Linked DNA regions of Homo sapiens. The protein of the gene in region 5 purifies or fractionates together with the protein of the main gene of each other region. This does not show direct contact. Each region holds a gene or a part of one and is shown on either strand. Other genes may lie near its edges. The genes, in order: PRRC2C, SMARCA1, PRRC2B, PDCD4, DDX60, SRSF9 and EIF5B.

Region 1 (5,276 bases), on a different chromosome or scaffold from region 5:
AGCCCAGGAGTTGGAGGCCAGCCAGGGCAACAGAGTTAGGTCTGTCTCTTAAATAGAAAATTTACTAAAGTTACCCTCTCTATAGAACGCTTTTATCCACAAAGGTGTTCTGGCTCATGCATCGATGAGATTAGCGAGGAATTTAAAATGTTATTACTCATAAAACTAACACAGTAACTCTCAGACTTGTAAGCAACAATTAACATAGACTGAGATAAGCTTTCATTGTGTTGTCCTATTCATAAGGTGACAAAATCACGATTTACCGAAATGAAAGTGTGTCATAACTCAGACACAATTTTTGTATGTCCTTCACTGTAAGAATACAATTCTGTACTAACTTATGTAACATTTTACCAATGATCAATTCTTGTCATTTACAAATATGACATAAATAGCATCCAAAACACAAGTTACCTAACTAACAAACTGAAGTAGTGTTTAGGGGTGGCACTTGGAGGCAGACAGGGATATAATATAATCTTCAAAGACATTTTATCACTAAAGAGGGTGGGGTGGGGGTAAGAAGAAGAGAGGGGGCTGGAATGAGCCAGAACTTCTGCATTTTCAGCTATGAACAAGATACTCATCCCAGGGATATTTACTGTAGAGCATAAAGAAATCGCTAAGAAGCAAAATCCTGCATATAAGTAGACATATCAGGGATAAGGGGAGGTGAAATTTTCTTATGTACCTAAAGAAATATATACATCACCCTGAGAATTTACAGATTATTTATTGCTTGGAAGAGAGTATTTTCTTCTACCAATATCCTACCATTCTCCCTCCACTATTAGTTGACCTTTTACTATGCACTAAGCATAGTAATAAGCCCTTTACATACATTATCCATTATCTTTTTTTACTCCTATAAAAGCCTCTGAGGGAAGTCCTATTATCATCACCATTTTACAGATGAGGGAATATTCTACCAATAATATAGATCAGACGCCTAAATTTAAAAATTATATCTACGACATGGTAGAGTTAGTTTTAAGTTATCTCTAAGCACTCAAATAGAAAAGGACACAAAAAAATTAGCCTCTACCCCAAGTCCAAAGTGGATATATTCCATTTTTACAACTTTCAAAACTTTAACCTTAGCATGCAACAATATTCATATACTAGTCAAGCTAAAGAAAAACTACTAGTTAATAATGCTTTATCTTATTTAGTTACTGTAGTTTATAATTTAAAAAGCAGGTTGAAGGTTTAGAGCATCCCCTTTGGGTTCAGACAGTATGGAATTGAACCTACACAATACCACCAATAACTGCTATGTGACCTTGGTCAGACTACTCTCTCAGATTTCATTTCCTCATCTGTAAAATGGGGATGATCTTAATAGCACTTTTCTCAAAGGTCTGTTGTGGAGATTAAAAAAAAAATGTATGAAAAGGACTTATTACTGTGCTCAGTGTATAGCAAAAGGTCACCTAATGGAGAACAGCCACACATAAGCTAAGCAGAGCAAACACAATCACTTAAAAAGGCTATATTCTGAAAATCCACTTACAGAAAAGGAGAGAATTACTATTTGACTACATGCTAAAGACAAAATTCAAGTTCAATTTATTCCTAATTTTTTAGGGGATCAATGCATTTGGGGTGAGCCAGAAAAGATGCTGCAGTGCATCTGTGACACACACCTAAAAATGGCTCCAGTCAAAGCAGCATCTTAATTACCAATATGGGAGGTGAAATCTAGTTTTGAAAAATGGTGGGGTTAGGCTTGGTAGGTGCTTAGTATCACCCTATTATTTTTATTTGCAGGAGTAAGCTATTAAGTACTCAACAATCAAAAAATCCTCCGATTCTTCTGGTGCATTCCAAATGAAAATCTTACAGCAGAGCCGCCTACTGTACAATTCTAAGTACTCTAACGAGGTATGAATCTATGAACCCAGGCTGAAAACCAGCCAATGCGGAAATCCAGGTAGCTTTATAAGCCAGCAAACATCAGGCATGTCAGACCCTCAAAAGATCCCAAATAATGTCAAAACACACATACATCCCTTTAAATTAAAGGTACTCCTCTCATGCAAAGGAAGGAAGACTCTATCAATGTCTCTATAGTGGCCCCATGCCCTTTTCTTCAGTCCTAAAACGGGGCCTTTACCCTGACACCACCAATATCAACGCTATCTCAAAGACAGGGAGCTACCGAGATTCACCACGCAAGTTAGAGGATGGAGCGGCCTAGAGTGTGAAAAGACTACCCAAATCCTCCTCCGGAGTTGGGCAGCACTTCCCTAGCGGAAGTAGGGTTGGTCTTGATTCCCCGAAGAGCCTCTCATCTAACCAGGTCTTTAAACCAGACCCTCCCATACATTGCTCATTGCAAGTCCCACCCTCACTACACAGGAAGAGGTAGACAGTGAAAGCCCCGGCTGAGTCCTTCAGTTGTTTGGGGAAACGCATACCCGACACTAAAAAAAAAAAAAAAAAAAAAAGACTTCACGTCCGCCAGTCCAGGAAGACGGAAACCCCCTTCGCTTACCCGGCAACATGCGTAATCCCCTCGCAGGGCCAGGACTGGGGTCTAGGTGGGAGCAAGACAGACCGGTCCAGAACTCCCGCTGCAGACCACATGGGGCGGGTCTGACTCCGGTTTCCCGCTCCCCAAGCTGGAGGCCGACTTCCCCAGACACAGAGATGATGGTAACCAAACAGAAGGGAAATGCCCGGACCCAAGGCCCTCTCCACGCGGCCCCCTAGCCTCCGGGCGCCAGGGTCTGGGTGCGCTCCCACGCCCCAGGCCGCACTCTGGCCGTTCCCGATGGGGCCCTCTTTGATCGCGGCCCCCACACCCTCGCTTTCCTTACCGGTCAGGGTGAGTGTCAAGTTTGCGCACTTCGAGGGTCTCCGCCGATCTCTGATCGAAAGAAGGGGGAGGGAAAGCTGGGGTTAAAGGGGTGGCCGGAAGGGCCACCAGACTGGAAAAGCCGAAGCTGCGGATGGACAAACCGCCAAAGCACTTTCGCAGCTTTCCGAGGGGGAGCGAGCGAGCGAGAAAAAGAAGCAAGATGGCGGCTAGCCAGCCCCTACGTACTACGTCATGACGCTAAGTACGTAGGTCAAATCTCCGCAAGACCACACTCCTGCGCAGAGACGGCCGGATCACGTGAAGCCTCCGTGGCGGCCCAACCCCGACAGAGGGTGCTGGCGCTTCCTGCTGGACGGAGGGAGTTTCTGCAATCAGAATTATCTTTTCAGGACAAAGCTTGGACCTGAGACCTTTCTAAGAAGTCTTGAATTGACCACGTTTACAAGTTGATAATAAGCCTCAGTGAAATGAGCACTCTTATGTCTGGTGGGTGGATGTGTAAATGGTTGAACCAGCAGTTCGCCAGTATGTCTCAGTGAATTTGGGGCAAGCTGAGAAGTCTTGGTGTATTGAAAAGTTATCACAGAGAGTGAAAGTAAAACTAGTGTGAGGAACAGAGTAGCATGGGCTGCTGAGAGCACTTTTTAAGTTTCTAATTATGGATGTGAGATAAGCCATTCAGTTTATTTATATGATCTCTCCATCACAGTGTTCAGCTCCGTTGAATAGTAAGATTCACCCATGCTGGCTTTTACTAGGCAAGTGTAACATAGGCAGATGAGTGTATCTGGAAGTGGGAGACTACAATGATGATAATATTATGTCAGAACAGATGGCGAATGTTTAGTAAATGGTATCTTTTGTCCTCTTTGTGAACTACCTATGACATATTTAAAATTCAAGGATTTCTTACCACTTCTGGTCTGAACGATCTTCCCCGCCAGTAGCTGGTGTATGTCCATGGAATTGTCACTGTAGCAATGTTAGAATAAATGAAATAATAAAGAGAGGTAAATTATGAACACCTCCCTCCCCACTAATATTAATTTGAAGTAGAAAAGTCTGGACTTGCTTGGTGGCTCATGCCTGTAATACTAATACTTTGGTAGGTCAAGGCAAAAGGATTGCTTGAGACCAGGAGTTCAAGACCAATCTGGGCAACATAGTGAGACCCTACCTCTGCAAAAAAATTAAAAAGAAAAAAAGCTAGCTAGGCATAGTGGCACATGCTTATAGTCCTAGCTACCTGGGAGGCTGGAGGCAAAAGGATCACTTGAGCACAGGAGGTTGAGGCTGCAGCGAGACTCTTTCTCGAAAAAATAGAAAAGAAGAAAAGAAAAAGTTTTTTTATTGATATAGGGTCATTGCCAGGGGAAAGCCTACTGATCATCCACAAGAGGACAAGGAAGCATTACTTTAGTGAATTTCTACAACCTTCTAGGATCTGGTCTATAGTGTCCTGGTCACAGAAACATCTTTCTTTGTTTTTTTGGAGGCAGGGTCTCACTTTGCTGCCCAGGCTGGAGTGTAGTGGCATAATCACAGGTCACTGAAGCCTCAACCTCCCAGGCTCAAGCAATCCACCTGTCTCAGCCTCCCAGGTAGGTGGGACTACAGGTGCTTGCCACAAAACCTGGCTTTTTTTTTTTTTTTTTTTTTTTTTTGCCAGTAGAGACGAGGTCTTGCTATGTTGACTGGGCTGGTTTCGAACTCCTGAGCTCAAGCAAGCCTCCCGCATTGGCCTCCCAAAGTGCCGGAATTACCGGCATGAGCCACCACGCCCAGCCAAATCATCTGTCTTGAGCAATGGAGAACAACTTCAGCAATCAGATGAAATTACATTAACCAAGGTCATAAGACTGACACGTATGGCCGGGCGCGGTGGCTCACGCCTGTAATCCCAGCACTTTGGGAGGCCGAGGCGGGCGGATCACAAGGTCAGGAGATCGAGACCATCCTGGCTAACACGGTGAAACCCAGTCTCTACTAAAAAATACAAAAAAAAATTAGCCGGGCGTGGTGGCGGGCGCCTGTAGTCCCAGCTACTCAGGAGGCTGAAGCAGGAGAATGGCGTGAACCCAGGAGGCGGAGCTTGCAGTGAGCACAGATCCTGCCACTGCACTCCAGCCTGGGCAACAGAGCGAGAGAGCGAGACTCTGTCTCAAAAAAAAAAAAAAAAAAAAAAAGACATGTATTAAATTATTAATTTCTAAGAGCTTTAATTTATACACCTGAACACTCAACAACTGCAAAGCCAATACTTTTTTTTTCTTTTTTTCTTTTAATTTTTGCCAGAAACAGAAAGCCTCCGGTATGCCAGCATGGACCCAAGGTGCTATCTTTTCTTGAGTACATTTTCTCATTTCCCTCCCCTCCCCTCCCCTCCCTCCCTCCTTCTCCCCTCCCCTCCCTCCCTCCCTCCCTTCCCCTCCCCTCCCTCCCTCCCTTC
Region 2 (3,246 bases), on a different chromosome or scaffold from region 5:
TGAAATATAAGTGGATGTGACATGTGTCACTTCTAGGCCGAGGCAGTAAAGAGCCTAAGTGCCACATGTTCCAGATGTTGCAGCCACAAAATAGCAGAGCCTTAGTCATCCTGGAACCTTGAGTTACCGTGTGGAGCAGATCCCTTCCCATTCCCACATCCCTCTGACCTGCATGAGATATGTAGTGTGAGCAAGAAAAAAAAACTCTTGGTGTGTAAAACCTCTGACACTTTGAGATTGTTACCTGAGCATAACTGTATTCCTGACAAACACAGCCCCCCTTCTTCTGCATACATAGTGCTTATTTCATACTCTAAACTTAATTGTTAATAATTCTACATGTTACACCCAGGCCCTTCTGAACTGGCTCTATGGGACAGAAGATCACACACAAGTCAGCAAGCAAAGCTTTAACTTTGAACCAAATACACAGTAGTAAGCAATACAATTCAGTAAACACAACTACTTTCTACTGCACAAAAAAACAGGAAATAATTAAATTTCTTATAGACATTTCTTTATTATATTTTCCCACTTGAATAGAGAATAATTTAAATGTAATGCATACTGACAGCAAGCACAGTATCAAATATTAGCTTTTTTAATATTTTTCTTTCCTCACCCTTTATTCCTTTAGGAAAAAAATATTTAGATGACCTCAAAGAAACAATTATTATGCTAATCACAGTATGCAGTAACACAAACAAGCCCAGACTCAATAGAAAAGAAAGCAACAAAGAAGTGAAAAAGTCTTTCTCCTCAAAACATTTTAATTCGTTTTTCCACAGCCATATAAATTTAAAGTATGAAACAACAATAATACAACTATAGAATCTAGGTTCTCTTTCAAAGCAGCGGCATATAAAACATAGAAAAGCTAAAACCTCAGCACAAGCTTCAAAAGAACAAGGACTGAGAGGATTTTGATGAAGACATGAAATGCACAAAATACAGTACACAAAAATACTAGAATGCCATAAAATATAAAGCTACACATTTCAGGTAGAAAGCATTGTAAAATATATAAAATATGCAAGAAATCAAAACCAAAGAGATTTTTCTTAGAGTACCATGAATACACTGGAACTGGCAATTAGCATTTGAAGATGGGAACAAGAAAATAGCAGTTTCCCATTTAAAACTTTATTTCTAGGCTTTAGGATTTCACCTTCTTGACATCCTTCTTTCCAGAGCTCTCAGTAGCTGACTCTGCTTTTCTTTTCTGTGACTAAAATGGAAACAGATTTAATGTTCTGCTCCAATATGCACATTTTAAATGGCCCAACAATGTTAAATCTAGGATGTAAATGCATTAAAAAAAAATTTTAACATGAATATTCACTTAAATGTTATATTCACAGTTAATGTTCTATATAGCCCAACAAACTATATAACCCAATGTAAAATAACCTTCAAAGATGTTTCTTTTTATGAAAAGACATAAAATACCCATCAAAAATAGTCATCAAGTATCTACTTACACATGGTATTATAAATGTACTCTTATCTTAAAGAACTACTTAATGTTTTCTGGGCAAAATTTTGTTTATGAGTATATATTTTTTAAAAAACTTATGATAGGTTTTAACATACCATATTTCATATCTTCTATGATACACATTTCTTTCACATTTTAGCATCTCTGAAATCAGGATGCAACTTACAACTGATGACAAATTACACCTGGCAGCATTTTCCCTCAGTGGTACATAAAATAATGCTGTGTCTTACAATGGAAGGCATCTTAGATTCGATGAAATATGGCAGTTTACTTAACCACACTCAAATAATACGATCTATTAAAGAATATTTTAAATTACAGCTGTACAAAGCAACCTGACTGGATTAAAATCAAGTTATCCTATCAATTCAACAGTTCACTTATTACCAAGCAAAGCTTTGTTGTCTGCTCAGAGTTCCCATTTGTACTCATAATTCCACAAACATCAGAAAACTTACTTGATCAAATCAGAACTCCTAGTTTCAACTTCAGCCCCATCCCATCCCACCCCTACCCCTCTGCTACCCCCATGATAGCTCTAGTCTCAATTCAAAAGATTTCACTTGCATTATACTTCTGTTTAGATTCATGAGGAATTTTTTAAAATACTGAGCCTAGTTACTAGGGAGTTCCTAACCATATGTTCTACAAACAAATAAGAAACATGGTTGTGAAGCAATTCTTCTTCTGTCCAAAACAAATTAGCATTTCATAAAACCAGCTTTTATTAATAGCTATCACTATGGCATTAAACATAATATAGGCATTTTAATTATGTAAAAAAATGGGATCTACCTAAAAGTTAGGAAAATGCTGAAAATTTTACCATTGGAGTTTTAGTTGCCCGTTTCTTCTTTTCTGCTCTCTCTCTTTCCTCAATTTCCATATTTTCTTTCTCAATCAATGAAATCAGAGTGTTACAGCGTCTCTGGAATTCCTAAATGAAGTAATAAAGATTTTTAATTTCTGCAACCCAATCATTATCTTTAAAACGCTGACAACTATTTAACTGTATGATTTCTGTGGTATAGAATTTCCAAAACTGCTATTTTTCAGGACAATATTCACACAGGGTATTAATAGATTCCACCAGAATTAGGAGTGGGGGTAAATGTCATTTATGGATGACTGGTTAAACAAACCATGATACATCCATATCATATAATATTACTCAGCAATAAAAAGGAAAGAACTATTAATACAGTTAACAATCTGAATGAACCTCAAGGGAATTATGCTAAGTAAAAAAAAAAAGCTAATTTCGAAAGGTTACATACCATATTATTCCATTTATATAACATCCTTAAATGACAAAATTATAGAAAGAGAGAACAGATCAATGGTTGCCGGGAGCTAGGGAGAGGAGAGAGGGTAGGTGTGACTGTAAAGAGATAGCACAATGGAGTCTTATGGTGGTGGAGGTTACACAACTCTACACATGACAAAACTGCATTGAACTGCACACACACACACACACACACACACGAGCGCATGTATAACTGATGAAATCTGAACAAGCTCTATAGATTACACGAATGTCAATTTCCTGGTTGTGATATTTTACTATAGTTTTGCAAAATGTTACTATTGGGGAAAACTGGGTGAAGGGTGCATGAGACCTCCCTGTACATTTTCTTTACAACTTTTTGTGAATTTTCTTATTTCAAAATAAAAAGTTAACATAAATCACATAAACAAAAAAAAATAAGGGGATGTTCTATGGTCAAAATAAGTTTTGGAAGTAC
Region 3 (4,503 bases), on a different chromosome or scaffold from region 5:
CTGAGTGACAGGTGTCATAGTATTGGTGTCCAAAAATGCCCAGGTGCCAGATTGGTTGAGCTGCCAGGTGTGAATCAGATGTGACTCTCAGGTGTGAGTCATCATCCCCTTTTGTCAGATCTTTTACTCCAGAATTCTGCAGGGGCTCATTGGTTTCTCAGACCAGGGGTTGTGTCCAAGGGATGGCTTCAGAGAGCCCTTGGATATTAAAATAGCATGTGAAAGGATTTTTTTTTTTTTTAAAGATGGGGTCTCACTATGTTGCCCAGGCTGGACTTGAACCCCTGGGTTCAAGCAATCCTTCTGCCTCAGCCTCCTGAGTAGCTGGGATTGCAGATATGTGCCCCCACCCCCTGCTAGCATGTCAACTTTTGCATGCATATCTATTTTTCTGGGCTCCGGATCCATGGCCATTCAAAAAGTGGTCTGTGAGCTTAAAAATTTTTAGTAATACCCGCTGGGATCTTTCAAAGACTCTGTAGAAGCCACCAACTTTGGCCAGGAGTGGTGGCTCACACCTATAATCCCAGCAGTTTGGGAGGCCAAGGCTTGAAGATCACTTGAGATCAGGAGTTCAAGACCAGCAACAGAGTGAGACCCTGTCTCTATTGTTTAAAAAAAAAAGAAGGCCAGGCCTGGTGGCTCACGTCTGTAATCCCACCACTTTGGGAGGCTGAGGCAGGCAGATCACCAGGTCAGGAGATCGAGACCATCCTGGCTAACATGGTGAAACCCCGTCGCTCCTAAAAATACAACAACAACAAAAAATTAGCCGGGCGTGGTGGCGGGCACCTATAGTCCCAGCTATTCGGGAGGCTGAGGCAGGAGAATGGCGTGAACCCGGGAGGCAGAGCTTGGCAGTGAGTGGAGATCGCGCCACTGCACTCCAGCCTGGGCGACAGAGCAAGACTCCGTCTCCAAAAAAAAAAAAAAAAAAAAAGAAAGATATATTTTTTAATGTAAAAAAAGAGAAGCTACCAACTTTTAGAAATAGTATAAGTGAAAAGAAGCATGAGCATAGCGGAAATAACGACAGAGAATCCAGATTGGCAGGAGTGAGGGCTCTGCCCTGCTCACTCTCTCCTGTAATCCATGAGATGTTGAGAAACACGTTGGGTGAGGATGTGGAAAGTTGGGTAAGGCTGTCAGACCAGCTCTTCCACGTCAGAGCCGTTCACTGGGTGTCACGGGTAGGGGGCTGGGGTGGCGGGTGCAGGGGAGGCAGGGGAGTTGGATTTCTGCAAGCTGTGCCTGTGCTTGTTCTTTAAGAGCTCATAAACTCTCTAGACGGGTTGCTCTTTGATGCCCTGACTCTGTCTTCCTCCCCTGGCAGCTCTCCCTGTGCAGGCCCCAGCCAACGACTCCTGGAGGAAAGCTGTCACTGCCTTCAGCAGCACCGAGACTGGCTCTGCGGAGGTGAGTGTGGCCGCTGCCCACATGCTGCCCCTGGGATGAGTGTGTGAGTGTGTGCTCACCATCCACACGGCCAGCTTGCTGTGGCCCACCCAAGCCCCTGCCACAGCAGCTGAGCTTGGAATTAGGTTGTTTCCATGGGGCCAAGCTCATCAGTGGTTTTCCATCTTGATTTCTGGCCTGTGCATGGGGCGTGCATGAGCAGGAGAAAGAGAAAAGGGGTAACAAGGGAGGACCCAACGCTGGGTGGGAAGAGGGATTCAGGGCCTCCTCTGAACTGGTGTCAGCAGCCACGTAGTCTGGTTTGGGTCACAAGTGAGATGGGTTTGGCAGCCTCGGTCTGGGGCCCATAGAAGATCCTGTGGTCACGAGCTCTATCGGGGTTGGTGTGTTTGGCCACACGTAAGTTGTCAGGCATCCTCAGCAGGGCAGGATCAAGATCAGGACCAGACTTGGCAAGGGACAGGCAGCTGGGGTAGAAAAGTCTCTGTGCCACATGCAGTTTTACTCTCTGGATAATCGAGTTGGGAGTTTGAGGCTATAACCCATTTTGTGCTCTGCACAGCAGGGTTTTAAGAGCAGCCAGGGAGATAGTGGCGTTGACTTGAGTGCCGAGTCTCGGGAGTCGTCTGCGACCTCCTCGCAGCGCAGCTCCCCATATGGGACTCTGAAGCCAGAGGAGATGAGCGGGCCCGGCCTGGCGGAACCCAAGGCCGACAGCCACAAGGAGCAGGCTCCAAAGCCATCTGAGCAGAAGGTAACCTGGACGTTCCAGTCACAGTGGCCAGGGCCTGGGTGGAAGGGGCCATCGTCTCATCATCTTCCTCAATTCCTGGGACAGTAGAAGCTAGAGAGTGTGGTCATTCCAGTCTGTGTGTCTCCACCTCTCTGCTTTTTTATCAAGGATTCAGAACAAGGCTCTGGACAGAGCAAGGAGCACAGACCAGGACCCATCGGCAACGAGCGTTCTCTGAAAAACAGAAAGGGCTCGGAGGGGGCCGAGCGGCTGCAAGGGGCTGTCGTCCCGCCTGTTAACGGGGTGGAGATTCACGTGGACTCCGTGCTGCCTGTGCCACCCATTGAATTTGGAGTCAGTCCAAAAGTGAGGCTTTGATTTGTTTTCTTGCTTGCTTTTTTTACTTTTTATTTTGGTACTTGGAGAGGCTGGGGGCTCAGATGGGATTGTCTCCTAGAAGGAATAGAAGGATGGGAGCCAAGCAGTCTTCCAGCGGCTAGAGTGTTGGTGTGGAGTCCTGCACATGGCCAGTGCTCTGTTGAGTTGCTTTAAAGATTGCTTCACTGACACCAGACAGGCCAGTGATCTTCCCTGTTTCTGTCAGGCCACCCAAGGGACAGGGAGAAAGAAGTGAGGCTGGCGTCCTGTCTCCTGTGCCGTGGGGAAAATCTGGCCATCTCGCTCATATGTGGCTCCAGTGAATGCTGCTCAGTGGAGTTTTTGAGTCGGGGAAACTGCATCACGTTAATGTATGCCTCTGGGGAATGTAGGGCCAGGAGGATCTCAGTGGGCTGTGTGGCCTTTTTTATTTTTTCAGGACTCCGATTTCAGCTTGCCACCTGGTTCTGCCTCTGGTCCTACTGGGAGTCCAGTTGTTAAACTTCAGGATGCCTTGGCCAGTAATGTAAGTCCACACTTCCACTTTTGGCTCCACTCACTGCTTGGGGCTGGCAGGCCCTGGGTGAAGGAGACAGCACATGTATTTCAGGCTGACCTGGGCTGGCACGTGACTCAGTTGCTAGCAGCTCCATGTCCTTAAAAGGTGCTTAAATGTTCCTGCCCAGGTTTTGTGACCTTCCAGTGGGGATCATACAGTTCCTAAGGGCTGGTTTATTTGGCTCTCTTTGGTTCCATTGTCTCCTCTGTGCCAGGTGCGAGCCCAGACTCAGGCTGCCTTTTCTGTGGCCAGGGGTAAGGGGCACAGATTGAGTAGGAGAGCCCTCCTCAGGAGGCCCCATCTCACCATCCAAGGGTCCCTGCCGCCTGCAATCTAACTGTTGTGATCCAGAAGACCTGCTGGCGCTCTACCATGGGCTCAGGAGCTGGCAGTTGCATCTGTTGTGGCCACTCGGGGCTGCAGCTGAGGCTGTCGCAGTGACATCTGGTTCACTGCTCTGTCCTCACCACCTGCAGGGGTGGGTGCTAGTGCATATGCTGAATGAACGAGTATCATTTGGGCAGCGTTTCCCAGAGGATTCCAAGGAATGTGAGTGCTGTACAATATTCATAGGTGTTGAATGAAAACAATGTTTTGGAAGTGCTGGGCTCTACGAGGTTCTTTACTCGAGAGTCTGCGGTCTCTGTCACATGCAGATGGACACCGGGGATCTGCAGGAAGCGGGGGCACTGTTGCATTTCCAGCCTCTGTTACCAGAGCCCTCTTTTTCAGTTTGCTGAGGGGCACAGCCTTCCCTGTCTGGCCCAGGGCATCTCCAGGCCAGGTGGCAGGTGCCTTCTGAACCAGATGTTTGTGTGCGGGCTGCCAGTCCATATTTATACTGCCGGGACATGGCTCTCCCTGTCTGGAGGGCACTATGGAGTGTGGATATGGGGGTGGCTCTCTGCAGACTTGTGTGGAGGAAACTGATGGAGGCAGCCATCTCCAGGAGATCAGTCATGGTCCTGGCTGCCATCAGTTTCATCTGGGTGGTCTTGGGTACATGTGGCCAATACTGAAGATGCATTTGGACAATTCATAGACACGGAGCTGTAGGTGCTTTTGGGAAAAGCCATGGATGGGTTTGGGCAAGTCATAGATACATTTGGACGAGCCTTGAGTGTGTTCAGGAGAGCCATGGATGGGTTTGGGCAAAGCCATCTCTGCACCTGTTTGTGTTCCATGGTTTCCTTTTCCTCCTCTCCAGGCAGGGTTAACACAGAGTATCCCCATCCTGCGGCGGGACCATCACATCCAGAGGGCCATCGGTCTCTCCCCAATGTCCTTCCCCACCGCCGACCTTACTCTGAAGGTAACACCAGCCCTGAGCTGGGTGAGGGCCCACCCAGTACCTTAGCTTACAAAGAGGCAGAAGGGAGGAGTCCCCGAACCCCTAAAGCTTAGATTGGCTCTGTCC
Region 4 (4,503 bases), on a different chromosome or scaffold from region 5:
AAAATTTGAATGAATCCACATTTTTTAACTCCCCAAAACTGAAACCAAACTATTAACTAAAAAATGAGTTCAGAAAGGTTGCAAGATAAAAGATCAGTACACAAAATTCAATTCTCTATACAGTAGAAATGAATGATCTGAAATGCAATTATTGCATTTGTGATAGCATCAAAAATAAAATACTTAGGAATAAATTTAACAAGACAAATGCAAGTCTTGTACACTGAAAACTGCAAAACAGGTTGAAAGAAATTAAGGAAGACCTAAATAAATAGAATGATATCCCATGGTTATGGATGAGGATACTTAATATTGTTAAGATGGTAATACTCTCCAAAATTAATATTTTTGGAAACTGGACAAGCTGTTTTATGGTGTGTGAATTCTCTCTCAATAAAGAAAATTGACAAGATAAAAATGGAAATAAAACTGCCAGTATATGAGTTTGAGGTTGACATTATTTGGATATTTGCTTACATGGAAGGGTTGGATCAAAGAAGACTTTTAGAAATGTATAAATGTATTTGTAATTTATCATTCTCAGAAGTGCATGGAATTTGATGGGGGATATTTTTAATACTTCTAAAGTTATGTAACAAATGTTAAAAGTAAGTAATATAATTTGAATAACAAGTACAGTCACGTGCCACATTATGATGTTTTGGTCAGTGATGGACTGTGTGGGATGGTGGTGGTCCCATAAGGTTATAACGGAGCTGAAAAATTCCTATCGTTGAGTGATATGGAGGCAGTTGTAATGTTGTAGCACAGTTACTTTATTTTTTCATAAATTTAATGTAGCCTAAGTATACAGTGTTTATAAAGTGCATAGCCAGTGTATGGGTAATGTCTTAGGCCTTTACATTCACTAACCACTCACTCATTGAATCACCCAGAGTAACTTCCATCCTGAAAGCTCTATTCATATTGAGTGCTCTATACAGGTGTATCATTTTAAAAATCATTTACACTGTTTTTTATTGTACCTTTTCTATGTTTAGATACACAAATACCATTGTGTTCCAATTGCCTATATTATTCAATATAGTGACCTGCTGTACAGATTTGTAGCCTAGGAGCAATAGGCTATACCATATAGCACTGGTGTGTAGTAGGCTATACCATCTAGGTTTTTGTGAGTATACTCTATGATGTTTGCACCATGACAGAGTCATCTAACACACTTTTCAGAATGTATCCCTGTTAAACGATGCATGACTATGCATTAGTTTGTAATTGTAAAAATACTCAAATGCTATGCTTTAAATATTTACTTACATGTAAATATTTAAATACATATTTACTTACATGTAAATATTATATCCTAAAGCATGACAGCAATTAAATTTTACTTTACCTTTTATGAAAATATCTTATAGAAGTTGGAAGGATACTTAAATATGATTTTTTAAATTCAGTCAGCCAACATTCAACATTCAGGCAACTAGATATGTGCCCACCAAATACAAAGGGGATTTTAACAAATAACATATAGGGAAAAATATTCCTAGTTGAAACTCTTGTGCTGAAAAAGTTCTCCCACTTTTTTGAGATGTTCAAGTTTGAGCGGGAAAATCAAGACTTGTCTCTTTAGCTACAGCTGGAAACTGAATTATTGAACATTTTAGATAATGAGTTTCAAATTCTCAGTTGTAGAGAAAAGAGAAACTATGTGGAAATCTTTGCCCTCTCTAGTAATGCCCCATTATCATCTCTCATTTTTTGGCTCTCAGTGCACTATTAAGAGCGTCTTGATAGAAGTGAAATATTTTGTGCCACTTTATGTTGAAACTTTGTTAGTGCCCTCTAGTGGTATTTAAAATCCCTTATTTTTAGTGGCACACTAGAGCATTATGGTCACAACCCAGGACGCATGCATTATAAACCTATTCGTAGTTCTCAGTGATTCAGACACACTGAAGCATTGCATTTGAATCATAATTATGAACCATTTAAAAATTGGGGATTTATTTTTTAATTATGAAAAATTCTGTTGTAATAGTACCACATCCAATGTATATGTTATTAGCTGTTTGTTACCCACTATTTCATTATATTGGAATGAGGGCAAATAATCCTGTAGGCAAGCACGATATTTTAAAAGTTAGGAATTCTGACACATCTCAACTTTTAAATCTAATAGATTGATATGCTGCTGAAAGAATATTTACTCTCTGGAGACATATCTGAAGCTGAACATTGCCTTAAGGAACTGGAAGTACCTCATTTTCACCATGAGCTTGTATATGAAGTAAGATTACCTTGCCATGTCAAAGATAATTATTAAGTGTTCCTTTTTGTACTGTAGCGACTTATGCTTTTTAAATAATGTACATCCTTTTTTTAATATCAAAGGAGGAAGTGGTTATTAAATTTCTACGATTACAGAAGGCATCTAGGTGCATTTTAGGAGCAGTTTCATATATGAATTAACCAAAAATTCACTCATTGATTCAATTTTTAGGCTATTATAATGGTTTTAGAGTCAACTGGAGAAAGTACATTTAAGATGATTTTGGATTTATTAAAGTCCCTTTGGAAGTCTTCTACCATTACTGTAGACCAAATGAAAAGAGTAAGTATAACATTGTTTTTGAACAACTTGTAGGATTATGTCTTAAATATATGATTGAATACAGATTATGAATTGTCAGTGAAATTTTCTTTAGGTATGTTTAGTGTTAATATGCCTATATGTTTTGTTTTTTCTTAATGGTAATGTTTGAGGTTTGAACCTTTTGCAACCATTTTTTGGAAAGTAACACTGCAGTGTTTTTTTTTTTTTTTTTACCTACTTTAACAAATGTAATTATGTATTCTACCTCAAGGGTTCGGTTTCTAAGATGTGACAATTTCTATTTTATATCTAGAGAGAAACATGAACCTTTAACTTTTAACAAATTATAAAGTACTTTTTTCCTATTAAAAATTTTATGATTATTGTTTTAAATGTTTGTGAGGTTTTTGTTTGCCTTGTATTTTTTTAAAAAGGTAGTAAGTGTAAATAGAGAAGTAGATGGGAAAGGAGTTTGCCCAATGTCTGATGTCTGCTTACAGCTCTTTTAAGAGAACAGTATTTAAAAAAAATTTTTTAGCTATGTAACCAGTTTTACTTATTTTTTTATTTATATTTTTAATTTTAGATATCAGAGGGGTATATGTACAGGTTTGTTAGATGGGTGTTTTGTGTGATGCTGAGGTTTGGGCTTCTAATTAATGATCCTGTCCCTCAGGTAGTAAATATAGTACCTGATAGGTAATTTTTCAACTCTTGTCCTCTTTCCTACCTCCCCACTTTTGAAATTCCCAATGTTTATTGTTCCCATCTTCATGTCTGTGTGTACCCAATGTTTAGCTCTCACTTACAAGTGAGACCATGCATTATTTGGTTTTATGTTTGTGATAATTTTCTTAGGATAATGGCCTCCAGCTGCATCCACGTTGCTGCAAAGGACATGATTTTGTTCTTTTTTATGGCTATGTAGCATTCCATGGGCGTATATGTACCACATTTTCTTTGTCTAATCCACCATTGATGGGCACTTGGATTGATGCCATGTCTTTGCTGTTGTGAATAGTACCCGATAAATATACAAATGCAGGTGTCATTTTGGTAGAATGATTTATTTTCCTTTGGGTATACACCCAGTAATGGGATTGTCGGGTTGAACGGTAATTCTATGTTGAGTTCTTTGAGAAATCTCCGAACCACTTTCTACAGGGGCTGAACTAATTTGCATTCCCACCAACAGCGTATAAACCTTCCCTTTTCTCCTCAACCTTGCCAATGTCTGTTATTTCCTGACTCTAATAAAAGAGAACAGTTGTAAAACACTGTAACAAATCTACTTTCTGTGCTTCTCACGATTCAAATCTGACTTCAGTTTAACCATTTGAATATTTGGCCTTAAATACAAATTGATGACATAGTGATGGATTGTGTTTTATGACATTTATTTTATATGGGCTAACAATTCTGCATGTAATTTCATTGTTGTAGGGTTATGAGAGAATTTACAATGAAATTCCGGACATTAATCTGGATGTCCCACATTCATACTCTGTGCTGGAGCGGTTTGTAGAAGAATGTTTTCAGGCTGGAATAATTTCCAAACAACTCAGAGATCTTTGTCCTTCAAGGTACTTTATTTAAATACTACTTTCTCAATGTAAAATAGTGGATGAGATCTTTGGGAAGGTTAACTGCTAAGTTAGTTTATCGTTCCCTGAAGTCACTGAAGAACGTGACTCTTGTGAGTTCATGGAGAAAGAAGGGCGAAGCTTGTTTTAGCCCCCTTGTAAATCTGTACAGGACTGCCTCATGAAGTCCTAGTTTATTTGAAAGAAACTAATCTTGTGGAGCAGGTCCTTTGTTGTAAGTAGTTTCAGTGTTTAGAGTAGGTATTATCAGTGATAAGATGAGAAAATTGAGGCTTAGGGAGGTATAATGTACTTTTTCTAAGGTCACATGGCTAGTACATGGTAGAAGCCAAGTATGAATTC
Region 5 (4,503 bases):
GTAAAAAAGAAGTAAACAGCAGTGACAAAATTATGAGTATGTACACATTACTCAGTGTAGAAGCAATCTAGGAATTGCTAGGCTAAGACATGTAGTTCTATGTTGTTAAAATTACTGTTTGAAATAGACTTTTGTAAATTCGAAGTACCATGGGTTCTCTTGTTTTTCTTTATAGCTTCCTTTAACTTTTCTAAATCACACAAAGTTTCATGGTTTTTTGATTGTCTTCATTCTTGATGGGTTTTCCCCAATTTTCTGTATTATCTCTTTAAATAAAATTATCATTTAAGATATATAGTTGGCATTTTGGAAGACAGCGTGGCCATTCCTCAAGGATCTAGAACCAGAAATACTATTCGACCCAGCAATCCCATTACTGGGTATATACCCAAAGGATTATAAATCATTCTACTGTAAAGACACATGCACATGTATGTTGATTGCAGCACTATTTACAATAGCAAAGACTTGGAACCAACCCAAATACCCATTAATGATAGGCTGGATAAAGAAAATGTGGCACATATACCCCATGGAACACTATGCAGCCATAAAAAAGAATGAGTTCGTGTCCTTTGCAGGGACATGAATAAAGCTGGAAGCCATCATTCTCAGCAAACTAACACAGGAACAGAAAACCAAACACCACATGTTCTCACTCATAAGTGGGAGTGGAACAATGAGAGCACATGGACACAGGGAGGGGAACCTCACACACTGGGGCTTGTCGGAGGGTTGGGGGCAAAGGGAGGGAGAGCATTAGGTCAAATACCTAATGCATGAGGTGCTTAAAACCTGGATGACGGGTTGATAGGTGCAGCAAACCACCATGGCACATGTATATCTATGTAACAAACCTGCATGTTCTGCACATGTATTTCAGAACTTAAAATAAAAAAAGGATATATGGTTGGTGAAATTTATGACTTCTTAGAAGTCTAATTACATCTTTTTGCCTCCTCCATGAATTGAATCACTATTTAGATGCAGAATTCTAAGTTCAAATTATTTTCCCTTTAGAAATCTGAAAGTGCTTTATTTTATCAAAACATCCAGGAATGTTGCTTATTTTAATTAATTCTGTGTGCCAGGTATTATTTTAATCAATTCGTATCCATCAGTTCATACATTTAAGTAGCTTGAAAACACAATCAGAGGTGAGTAATATTATTGTTCCAATTTTATAGATAAGTAAATTGAAACTCAGAGATGGTAAATACCTTGTCTAAGCTTATAGAACTATAGTATATTTCAGAACCAAGATTAAAATGCAAGTAGTCGGCCAACAGTGTTCATTTCTTAAACCAGTTCTCATATGGCCTGACTTCCATTTCTTTGTACCTTTTCTGTCTTTCTCTTTATTCTTGGAGCTCTGCAATTTTAACAAGTTGTGCCTAGGCGTAGTTTTCTCTTTTGTCATTATTTCTACTCAGTAGTTAGAGAAACATTTCAATCTAAACACATTATGTTGTTCTTTAGTTCTAGTCTAATATTAGTATATTAGTTTAAGTATATATCTTTGATTATTTTTATCCCCACTCATTTTGGAATCTTAGTTATCTCCTACTAGAAATATTAGTAGGGGGAGAAAGAGCTTATTGACTTATTCCTGGATATTTTAGTATTTTTAGAATTTTTTCATCTCTTTGTCTTTTACTTTTATCCTTTACAAAATTTCCTGGACTTTAACCCTACAGATCACTGACTAAAAATTCCAGCATGCTCATTTTATTGTTCTGCAATGACTTTCTTCCTTGTAAAATTATGTTTTAAATGTGTACGAATACTTGCATGCTTTCTTTTTCTCTTTCTCTCTCTCTAGCAGCCTGTTACTATTTTATGAGAAATATTTTTAATTCTTTGAAAGCAGTAATTAGAAAATTTTGAAGGTCTTTTCTGTCTCTGCATCATGCTTATTCATCTGGTTTCTTATTTTTGCTTTTTTTGTGTGCCTCAAATGTCTATTGGTACTAATTTGTGTGTGTGTGTGTGTGTGTGAGTGTTCAATCATTAGTTACTACAGGTGGCTGGATCTCTAGCATGTCTCTCCCTTAAATGACAGAGAAGTGGGGATAATGACTGTGAATTCTGTTTAGGTGTTAGGGCGTGCATGTGTTGGGGCAGAGGTTAATAGGGTAGCTCTAGTATAGGGTATATAAGAGGAAAGCCTAGGGTGTGTAAGCCTACTTTAGTATAGGGCATGTAAGAGGAAAGCCTATTAGGCTTTACACGCATTGTCTTGCATACCCTGTCCTATGTCATGCAGAGCAACCTGTAGGATCTCAAACTTCCCATAGGCAGGCTACGGAATCCCTTGATTGTCAAATTAAGGAGGGATTGCCCATTAACGCAGTTTTATTTTGTCACCATAGCTATTGCTGAAAGTTTCACAGTGTTTAACGGGCACTCACGTCTCAGTCATAGTTATATTTCATTATAAAAACTATATTATTCCTTTTAATCTATGTATATTATTTCTTAAAACAATTTCTAAGTTGTCAGGACATAAATAGTTATTAATTTGTTTGTATCTAACTACTTAATAAATGAAACGGTTAGCTATTGATTTTGTCCTAGGAGTGGCATAAAAAAATTCCTGAGACTCTAAGAGCATCGTGAACATCTGGGAACCTGTAAATTAACTTATTTCATCTTGTAGAATCTGATGCTATCCTTTCTGAAGTTTTCTGTAATATACTTGGGGTTAATTCTCTCTTGCCTGTTCAGTTCTCACTGACCCATTTTTTTCCATTTGAGCTTGGTACAATTTGGAGAGTTGAAGAAAGATAGTATGGCCAATGCACAGTTAGTGAGGTGGAGGATTGCATGAAATGGGTGACAGAGAGTTTTTTGAAAATACCTAATCTCCTGACCTGGGCACAAGACCCATTATAGTCTGGTTCTAACCTACCTTTCCAATGTCATCTCCAATGAGTCACCCTGTCCTATGCCATGTAGAACAACCCATAGGATCTCAAACTTGTCATGTAGTTTCACAACTTTATGCATTAAACTGATGCTGATTTTGCTACCTGAAAAGTAATTCTCTATATCTCTCACTTTCCCCAACATGCTTTCATAAGTCTTCATCATCTTTTCAACCTGTTCTTGAAACCTCAGAACACAGGACCCTGATCCCTTCATTCTGATTTAGGAACTCCCTCTCAATTCTCTAATGGCTTCCTGTGCCATTTCTGCTAGAACACAGCAAATTAGATGTAGTGTGTCACTTAGTTATCTTTCAACTTACACTGGGTTGTACAAGGAGAGAATCATGCTTCATGCATATTTGCATATGTTTCAGCAAGTACAATGTTTTGTAAAGTGTAGATACTCTATAATCTTTGAAATAAGATAGTAACTGAGTGAGTGAGAGACCATACTTACGCTCGTGTCTCCATTAAGGGTCCCTAAACTCCCCAGCCCACAGTAATTCCATTTTTCTTTAAACTTATTTGTCATTACAGTCATATACTTCCTTGCATTATTATTGTAATATTTAATATCAGCATGTGCATCACCATTATATGTTCCTTACTATCATGGAATAGGAATCTCTCTCTCTCTATCATATCTATCTATCTATCTATCTGTGTATCCATCATCTATATCTATCTATATCAATCAATCTATCTACTATCTATCCATAAATCATGTGTGTATCTACCTATCTGTTTCATAGCCCTAACATATTGAATGGCAAGTGTCTCAATATTTAGTGTCCATGACAAAATGCTCAAGTGCATTTTCATCTACCTCTTTAGTATTTTCTTCTCTATTACCTTTGTGGATTCTTCCTCCTCTCTTGATATATTAAGTATTAGTATCTTCAAATGTGGGTTTTTAGTACTCTTCTCCCATGATGCTGTCTCTCCCTGTCCAAGCAAGCTCATCTACACCAATGGCCTCATTTACCGTTAATACTCAGATGACTTACCTCTTCAAATCTAGTCCAGACTTTGTATTTGTCCTCTAGACTTGTATATTTTACTACTTACATATCATGGCTTATGGGGAATCTTGAAAGCAAGTCAAATTCAGGTGGTTCACAAATGCCGCCATAATCTTTTCCTGACACGTAGCCTTGTTCTAAAATTCCCAGCCCAGGGAATGGCCTAGTCATCCATCCTGTTACTTGAGCTAGAAACTTGTGTCATCCTTGACAACCCCCTTTCCTCTCTTGTCCATCCACATCCAGTCCAGTTCCAAATTATGTCAAGCTCATCTCCTAAATGTCCTTCAAGTGAGTCCACATCTCTCCAGCTTTATTATCTCAGCTACCATCAAACTATATTACATCAAATTATCATCATTACTCTCCTGCACAGTAACTTTCTTTCTGCTCTACTAAGAAGCTTACTCCCATCCTGTTTATTCTCTATATTGTAGCTGGACTAATCTTTTCAAAGTGCAAAGCCAATCACAATACCACCTGCTTAAAATCCATCAGTGGCTAACTTTTCATTCTAGGACGAAAAGAAAATTCTATAACATGACTTCAAA
Region 6 (3,791 bases), on a different chromosome or scaffold from region 5:
TTCACAGAGGGATACTGCCATTTAAGCTGGTTGTGAATGGGGTGGTATGAAGACCGACTGCACTAGTATTCTCTCCAGGTTACAAATACCATGACCAAACTGTGTAATGTGATACTAATATGCAGAATAAAGCATATTAAAAAACAAACGTACCATGAATGCATACTTCTTTCAGCTATGACCCTGAAGGACTTAGGCATAGCAAATTCCATGGCTTTGTCCACCTAAGATAGATCTCTTATGGTACTGTGAGGTTACCAAATGGCATGGCCTCTTGCTACCTCTGCTAGGTCAGGTTCAAGTGGAGTGATTTGAGTACAAGCTCCTCAACAGAAGGCAAGGACCCACCTCATGAGAGCGGAATTTGGTGTCATCCAGTTTACGCAGGGCATATTCCATGTCTTCTTTTCTGAGATACTCGACCATCCCCACTCCATCCTTCTGCACATCAGCATAACAGACATCCCCAGCTTCTCGCATGTGATCCTTCAGGTCCTGCCAGCTGCCTGACGGAGGAAGTCCTAGGCATGGAGAACATAAGAAAGCCCACATCCTTCAGCTATGTTAACTGCCCTGTTAAGAGCCAGCAATACCTATGGTCCTTTCTCCATGATCACTTAAATCCTGAGGGTCCCCAAATCATAAACCTTGATAAGGGACATGAAATCAGAAAAGAGCACTGAAGTATGTGTGGTAAATGAACCACCTTGAGAAGCTGGTTTTAAGTTCATCTTCCAGAGACCAGGCCTTTTCAACAGAGCAAGAAGTCCATCCCATTACAGGTTTAGTATCTTTGAGAATTCATAGCCTCTTTCTTTGTCCTTTAAAATCAATGCCAAACTCCTAATACTTTGAGTTCCAATTTTTTCCATTATGAAATTTAACAGTACCAATTATTTATTGCTTGACAGGGTTTCACAGGACATGGGAATTTTGAAACCAGACATGAAATAACCAAAGAGTAGCTGAAGGTAACAACACAACAACAAAAAATCTAAAGTTTGTTTTCTTGTAGGTATGAATGACAAACTATACAGAGTACCTCTTAAAAGATCACCAACATTCTTCAATACAGTGGGGGGGAAGGTAAGACTCAGATGCTAAAACTAGTCGGGAGTCATACAACCCTACCTGATGTCATGAAAGGGAAATGTGCTCCTGCTCTCAAAGGCTGTGTTTACCGCTCACAGCTCAGGACTGCAGCCATTTCCTAATAGTTTTCTAAGCAGGATTTCAGAGCAGCATGGAGAGAAAAAAAGATAATGTATGACATCCTGAAGGAGGGAATAGAGTTCTGGGGTTAAAAAATTACAAAGGGACACAAGATAGGCAGATACTGAGAGTATCACTCTTAAGCACATGGGAGTATGCTGTGATTGTGTGACATTCACATCTTAAAAAGGTGCCAGGCTCCTCGATTTATTTCATTCCACCAGGGCCCTAAAACTCCCATGCAATATGCAGAAGGCCCCAGGTCTTTCCAGTGTGTTAATATTTTGAAGATAGATAAACCTCCCAGTTTAGCATTTCATCACTTATAAACACTAGACAGAAATAGTCTATACTTTCCAATAAAATCTCTAAGACTCTTAAGTTACGGGGTTTTAAAAAATATTTAATTCTAAAACCACCACAAAATCTGATCTTCTTCAGGATCCAAGGCTGGGTAAGTTGTTCAAATCTGGCTCCTTGAATGCCTTTCTACCATGTCTGATGCCAAGTATATTCCAAAAGAAGCATCTTTAGAATTGTAGCTCAAGTTTTCCCATCATCTTTCCTTCTCACCACTAGAAAACTCCTTTACAAGAAATATGGTTATGTTCTTCCAAGGCTGCACTCCCAGCGCAATTTCATTTGCAGGATACTTTCCTCATTGGCAATCCAGGGCAAGGCTTCACACAGGCTATTGAAAAGAAAGCCCCCGTGTCCCATGCACTGAAGAATAACAGCTATCATTTCTTGGAAGACAGACTCTGTGTTAAGTATTTTACATGTATCATCTCATTCTGTTTGAAAGGAACATACCTGAAACAAGAACTCGGAAATCAGATCTTCTTGTAGGAGGCCCATTCCTCCCACCACGGGGCCACCCACCCCGACCTCCATAAGTCCTGGGGAACTCCACACGAAGCCGACACTGGCCATAATCATAACCATTTCTTCCATAAATAGCATCCTCTGCATCTCTAAAAAAAACAACAACAACAAAAAAAACGTTTGGAGTTAGTGCTGTTCAGGAGGCCAAGTGACTTTCCAAGTGAGGGGCATGAGTAGTAAGCATAAAAGGGAAACCTAGAGTGAAGAAAAAAACACACAAATCAGGATCCTGAAGCACTTCTGCTTTGGTTTGGAGACGTTTCATGATACTGGAATTAACCTTTACAGCTGTCACACGCAGTTTTAGAGGTATGAAATTATAATGAATGAGCAAACAGATTACTCATAAGAGGGCTAATTCAGAGAAAAAAAAGAATCAACTGCTGACAGATTATTGATTTTGCCAATAAACCATCAGTGTTTTTCTAATCTTCGTGAGCATTTTCTCGAAAAGCACACCACACACTAACCCCTTAATATTTTTCTACAAAGCCTAGTGCCATAAAGTCTATGGAAATAAAAAGTAGGCGGTTAGCCAGGCATGGTGTTGCACGCCTGTAGTCCCAGCTACTTGAGAGGCTGAGATGGGAGTGCAGAGCCAAGATCACACTACTGTACTCCAGCCTGGGTGACAGAGACCCTGTCCCAAAAAACAGGAAAAAAAAAGTAGCCAGTTAGATAGGAGAGTATTTGAGGGTAAATAAAGTAGCTGGGCATGATGTTTGAGCCCAGGTCAGGCCAGCCTGGGTAATATAGTGAGACCCGGTCTTTTAAAAAAATAAATAAATAAGGCTCAAAGGACAAAAGAAAAATGCAAATGAGTGTTTTGTGATGAATGTGGAACTTTTTTTTTTTTTGAAACGGGGTCTTGCTCTGTCACCAAGGCTGAGTGCAGTGGCTGGAGCATAACTCACAGCAGCTTCTAACTCTTGGGCGCAAGCAATCCTCCCACCTCAGCCTCCTGAATAGCTAGGGCCACAGGCGTGTACCACTGCACCCAGCTAATTTTTGGATTTTTTGTAGAGACAGGTCTCCCTCTGCTGGCCAGCCTGGTCTTGAACTCCTGGGCTCAGGCGATCCTTCCCCTCAGTCTCCCAAAGTGCTAGGATTACAGGCATAAGCCACTGCGCCTGGCCTTGGAACTCTAAGTGTACCTTTTCAGCATGGTTTGGAGAACTATTTTTGTCAAAAAACATTCTTTGGATACAATTTTGCCAAAAGAGATAAATATTCAATAAAATTACTTTAAGTCTTTCCTAGGACTCTAGGAGAGTCAGGAATGCCACGTTGATTCTCCAGTATTGGATGGTAGAAAGTGTGACCTTGGAGCTTGGGTGGACAAGAGGAGCTGAATGTGCTAATGAAGGCATTGTTCAGTGTCACAGGCACATAATCACTTGTAAGATTTTAGAACTAAAAGCAACAATGACCATATCCAGTGCAACCTTGACTACGTAAAATGCAGACTGGGAGAGGCAGAACTGCTAGGAGGTCAGAACAACTCTGAATAAAAACTGGCCAGCATTCAGGCCAGGCGCTGTGGCACATGCCTGTAATCCCAGCACTTTGGGAGGTGGATCACTTGAGGTTAGCAGCTTGAGACCAGTCTGGGCAACCTGGTGAAACCCCTCGTCTCTACTAAAAAGATAAAAATTAGCTGGGCATGGCATCGCGCAGCTGTAATCCCAGCTACT
Region 7 (3,722 bases), on a different chromosome or scaffold from region 5:
TCGGAATAGTAACAAGTATTGAAATAAACCATAAACAAGTGGATGTTGCAAAAAAAGGACAAGAAGTTTGTGTAAAAATAGAACCTATCCCTGGTGAGTCACCCAAAATGTTTGGAAGACATTTTGAAGCTACAGATATTCTTGTTAGTAAGGTAAGTATTTCAGCAAAAGTGGCACACTTTAAGCAACAGGGAATCACTCTTCTTGGGTCACCTGTACCTGTAGCTCCTTGGGCTTCAGTTTGATTGTAGAATCTGATGGGACTGGATCCCCCATTAGGGCTTGACCTCTAGCTGGGCCTTGTCTGTTGAGGAAGTTGCTCTATCAGGAAAGCAGCACCAACAGAGAAAGCTAGGACTTTTAGGTCCCCTCGTGCCTGACATGCAAACCAGATGTGATTTTGGAATTCTACTCCCTTAGGCAGGCAAGCCCTGTTTTTTATTTCTGCTTAAGCTTTTTAGTACAGTGAGAGCGGGCATCTGGGGCCACAGCTTTCTTTGGCACGTTTGTTATGTTCTGTTTACCCTGTTTGTGCCTCGGGCATTGCAGATCAGCCGGCAGTCCATTGATGCACTCAAAGACTGGTTCAGAGATGAAATGCAGAAGAGTGACTGGCAGCTTATTGTGGAGCTGAAGAAAGTATTTGAAATCATCTAATTTTTTCACATGGAGCAGGAACTGGAGTAAATGCAATACTGTGTTGTAATATCCCAACAAAAATCAGACAAAAAATGGAACAGACGTATTTGGACACTGATGGACTTAAGTATGGAAGGAAGAAAAATAGGTGTATAAAATGTTTTCCATGAGAAACCAAGAAACTTACACTGGTTTGACAGTGGTCAGTTACATGTCCCCACAGTTCCAATGTGCCTGTTCACTCACCTCTCCCTTCCCCAACCCTTCTCTACTTGGCTGCTGTTTTAAAGTTTGCCCTTCCCCAAATTTGGATTTTTATTACAGATCTAAAGCTCTTTCGATTTTATACTGATTAAATCAGTACTGCAGTATTTGATTAACCAAGCTTCTGCAGATTTTGTGATTCTTGGGACTTTTTTGACGTAAGAAATACTTCTTTATTTATGCATATTCTTCCCACAGTGATTTTTCCAGCATTCTTCTGCCATATGCCTTTAGGGCTTTTATAAAATAGAAAATTAGGCATTCTGATATTTCTTTAGCTGCTTTGTGTGAAACCATGGTGTAAAAGCACAGCTGGCTGCTTTTTACTGCTTGTGTAGTCACGAGTCCATTGTAATCATCACAATTCTAAACCAAACTACCAATAAAGAAAACAGACATCCACCAGTAAGCAAGCTCTGTTAGGCTTCCATGTTAGTGTAGCTTCTCTCCCACAAGTTGTCCTCCTAGGACAAGAATTATCTTACAAACTAAACTATCATCACACTACCTTGTATGCCAGCACCTGGTAACAGTAGAGATTTTTATACATTAATCTTGATCTGTTTTAATCTTGATCTGTTTTAGTAGAGATTTTTATACATTAATCTTGATCTGTTTTAATCTTGATCTGTTTTGTCCTAGAAAATTCCATCATACACACATTTCCTGATATTTGGGCTTAGTGCTTCTAAATTGTTGCAGACACAAAACTTAATGATTCATTCGTAGTAGTAATCTGTAGCTAGTTTTAGGGTTTTGCTGAAGTCAGTGTGGGGTGTTTGTTTGAGGAAAAAGTTCCAAATATCCACTAGCATAGAATTTTAAACTATTTTTATTTTAAAGTTATGGCATAACATATAACATAAAAATATTTTATATACGTTTGAAAAATCTATACCGTTCTTTTTTATCATCAAAGTTTCTCAATGGCCAGTAGAAGCAAAAAGACAACACCACCTCTGATCTACGGGACATAATGTTCCCAGGAAAAAAATCTTCAAGTGGGTGTGAGGGTGTTTCTAATTCAAAATATGTAGATTTCTCCGCATGGAAGAAGTAGTAAAGATTTTCTTAACATGCTCCTGTGTTCATGCTTGGAGACAAGAATAAGATGGTTTAGAAGCTTTACCCTTTCTTGGAACAAGTAGAATCCCGGTCTGAGACCTCTCAGGAATTTCAGAGCTTAGCAGTCTGGCCTGGAGGTTTTTCAGCCTTTTAGTATAATAAACAGTAGTTGCTTCCTAGAGTTGAGTTTTTAAGGATTCACAAAAAGGAGCCTGTACAAAATATACATACAGTTCTTTATTAAACAACTGTAAACACTTCACTGTAAAAATCCATAAAACTTTATAAACAAACATTTTGTAAATAGAATCTATGCTACAGTAAAATAATTAACACAATTATTTACATGCAATACTGACAAATTTGGCACTTTTTGAAAAGAAATGTACAAAACACTTGCTTTAAAAGAAATTTAAAATTATAAAAACTCCGAGCATTACTATCATGCACTTTGCAAATACCTCACAAGCACTTATGGCACAGCTATCAGAGAGCATCAGGCTCTCTGGTAATATTTATGTAACTTTTAATGTGCTTCCATAAGTTTGTTGTAAAACCACCTGGACATTGTCAAGAATAAAGTCAAATGCCATATTCCAAACCGATTCCACCGATTGCTGCATCAGCCTAAAGGTGGGGAGAGAAGAAATGTCATTAGGAATTAGGAAAGGTCCTTAAGACTAATTATTCCTTTTTATATATAAAAATTGACTTTGGCAAAAAAAAAAAAAAGTCCTGGCCAGGTGCGGTGTGGCTCATGCCTGTAATCCCAGCACTTTGGGAGGCCGAGGAGGGCGGATCACCTGAGGTCAGGAGTTTGAGACCAGCCTGGCCAACATGGTAAAACCCCGTCTCTACAAAAAATAGAAAAATTAGGTGGGCATGGTGGCACATGCCTATAATCCCAGCTACCCGGGAGGCTGAGGCAGGAGAGTCACTGGAACCCAGGAGGCAGAGGCTGCAGTAAGCCAAGATCCTGCCACTGCACTCCAGCCTGGGCGACAGAGTGAGACTCCATCTCAAAAAAAATAAAATCCTAGAACACTCAAATTTTTTTTTATTTTGTTTTGAGACAAGCTGTCGATCAGGCTGGAGCCATGCAGTGGTGCAATCATGGTTCACCGCAGCCTCCACCTCCCAAGTAACTGGGACCACAGGTGGGCACCACCACCCCCCCAGATTATTTATTTTTTGTATTTTTCAGTAGAGATGGGGTTATGCCATTTTGGCCAGGCTGGTCTCAAACGATCCACCCACCCCAGCCTCCCGAAGTGAAGTACAGGCGTGAGCCACTGTGCCCAGCCCACTTCCTATGGTTTTTTAATCACATGTAAGACCTTGAGGGCAACATATTTGGAACCTTATTTGCTACTTAGTCAACATGGCAAAATAAAGGATATCACTTTCTCATTAACCCTAATGAGTACAGTTTCCCAGAAAGTTTAAAACAACTCAGTACACCCTCAGCCATTGTGACATGCCATTTTTTCCCATTTGATAAAAGTGATGAATTACTACCTTTTCATGTATTTTATAACTAGATCCAGTTTTTCCAAATCTTTTTCTTCTATTAGATCAGTACAGTATTTCACAACTTGGAGAATGTCTTCTTCCATTGGATCTAGGAAGGGGGAAAAACTTCAAATGAGGACCAGTCTTTTTGAAGGAGAAAGTCAGAGATCTGCATGGATAAAGGAAAACTGCATTTCTACAACTATGTCACTAACAGCTATCAAAGGAATGGGCTTTGTTAC

Evidence for each region.
Region 1: the proteins of DDX60 (region 5) and PRRC2C purify together in Homo sapiens (affinity purification with mass spectrometry; one large-scale study listed by BioGRID and IntAct). This does not show direct contact.
Region 2: the proteins of DDX60 (region 5) and SMARCA1 purify together in Homo sapiens (pull-down; one large-scale study listed by IntAct). This does not show direct contact.
Region 3: the proteins of DDX60 (region 5) and PRRC2B purify together in Homo sapiens (affinity purification with mass spectrometry; one large-scale study listed by BioGRID and IntAct). This does not show direct contact.
Region 4: the proteins of DDX60 (region 5) and PDCD4 purify together in Homo sapiens (affinity purification with mass spectrometry; one large-scale study listed by BioGRID and IntAct). This does not show direct contact.
Region 6: the proteins of DDX60 (region 5) and SRSF9 purify together in Homo sapiens (affinity purification with mass spectrometry, with the first as the bait; one large-scale study listed by BioGRID). This does not show direct contact.
Region 7: the proteins of DDX60 (region 5) and EIF5B purify together in Homo sapiens (affinity purification with mass spectrometry; one large-scale study listed by BioGRID and IntAct). This does not show direct contact.

The regions. Positions count from the first base shown.
Region 1 is NC_000001.11:171,483,285-171,488,560, reverse strand, and holds the start of PRRC2C (protein PRRC2C), read right to left. Parts: upstream 3,032-5,276; 5' UTR 2,826-3,031; intron 1-2,825. UniProt on the Homo sapiens protein: Required for efficient formation of stress granules.
Region 2 is NC_000023.11:129,446,006-129,449,251, forward strand, and holds the end of SMARCA1 (SWI/SNF-related matrix-associated actin-dependent regulator of chromatin subfamily A member 1), read right to left. Parts: intron 2,439-3,246; coding exon 2,328-2,438; coding exon of another isoform or gene 2,304-2,327; exon of another isoform or gene 2,297-2,303; intron 1,297-2,296; coding exon of another isoform or gene 1,291-1,296; exon of another isoform or gene 1,229-1,290; coding exon 1,157-1,228; 3' UTR 501-1,156; downstream 1-500.
Region 3 is NC_000009.12:131,480,393-131,484,895, forward strand, and holds part of PRRC2B (protein PRRC2B), read left to right. Parts: intron 1-1,333; coding exon 1,334-1,416; intron 1,417-1,978; coding exon 1,979-2,170; intron 2,171-2,317; coding exon 2,318-2,515; intron 2,516-2,966; coding exon 2,967-3,053; intron 3,054-4,293; coding exon 4,294-4,398; intron 4,399-4,503.
Region 4 is NC_000010.11:110,891,948-110,896,450, forward strand, and holds part of PDCD4 (programmed cell death protein 4), read left to right. Parts: intron 1-2,143; coding exon 2,144-2,251; intron 2,252-2,464; coding exon 2,465-2,575; intron 2,576-4,000; coding exon 4,001-4,140; intron 4,141-4,503. UniProt on the Homo sapiens protein: Inhibits translation initiation and cap-dependent translation. May excert its function by hindering the interaction between EIF4A1 and EIF4G. Inhibits the helicase activity of EIF4A. Modulates the activation of JUN kinase.
Region 5 is NC_000004.12:168,311,817-168,316,319, reverse strand, and holds part of DDX60 (probable ATP-dependent RNA helicase DDX60), read left to right. Parts: intron 1-4,503.
Region 6 is NC_000012.12:120,463,602-120,467,392, forward strand, and holds part of SRSF9 (serine/arginine-rich splicing factor 9), read right to left. Parts: intron 2,187-3,791; coding exon 2,026-2,186; intron 522-2,025; coding exon 349-521; intron 149-348; exon of another isoform or gene 1-148. UniProt on the Homo sapiens protein: Plays a role in constitutive splicing and can modulate the selection of alternative splice sites. Represses the splicing of MAPT/Tau exon 10.
Region 7 is NC_000002.12:99,398,758-99,402,479, forward strand, and holds the end of EIF5B (eukaryotic translation initiation factor 5B), read left to right. Parts: coding exon 1-152; intron 153-549; coding exon 550-657; 3' UTR 658-2,483; downstream 2,484-3,722. Other genes in the region: DNA repair protein REV1, read right to left, coding at 2,484-2,595, 3,487-3,589. UniProt on the Homo sapiens protein: Plays a role in translation initiation.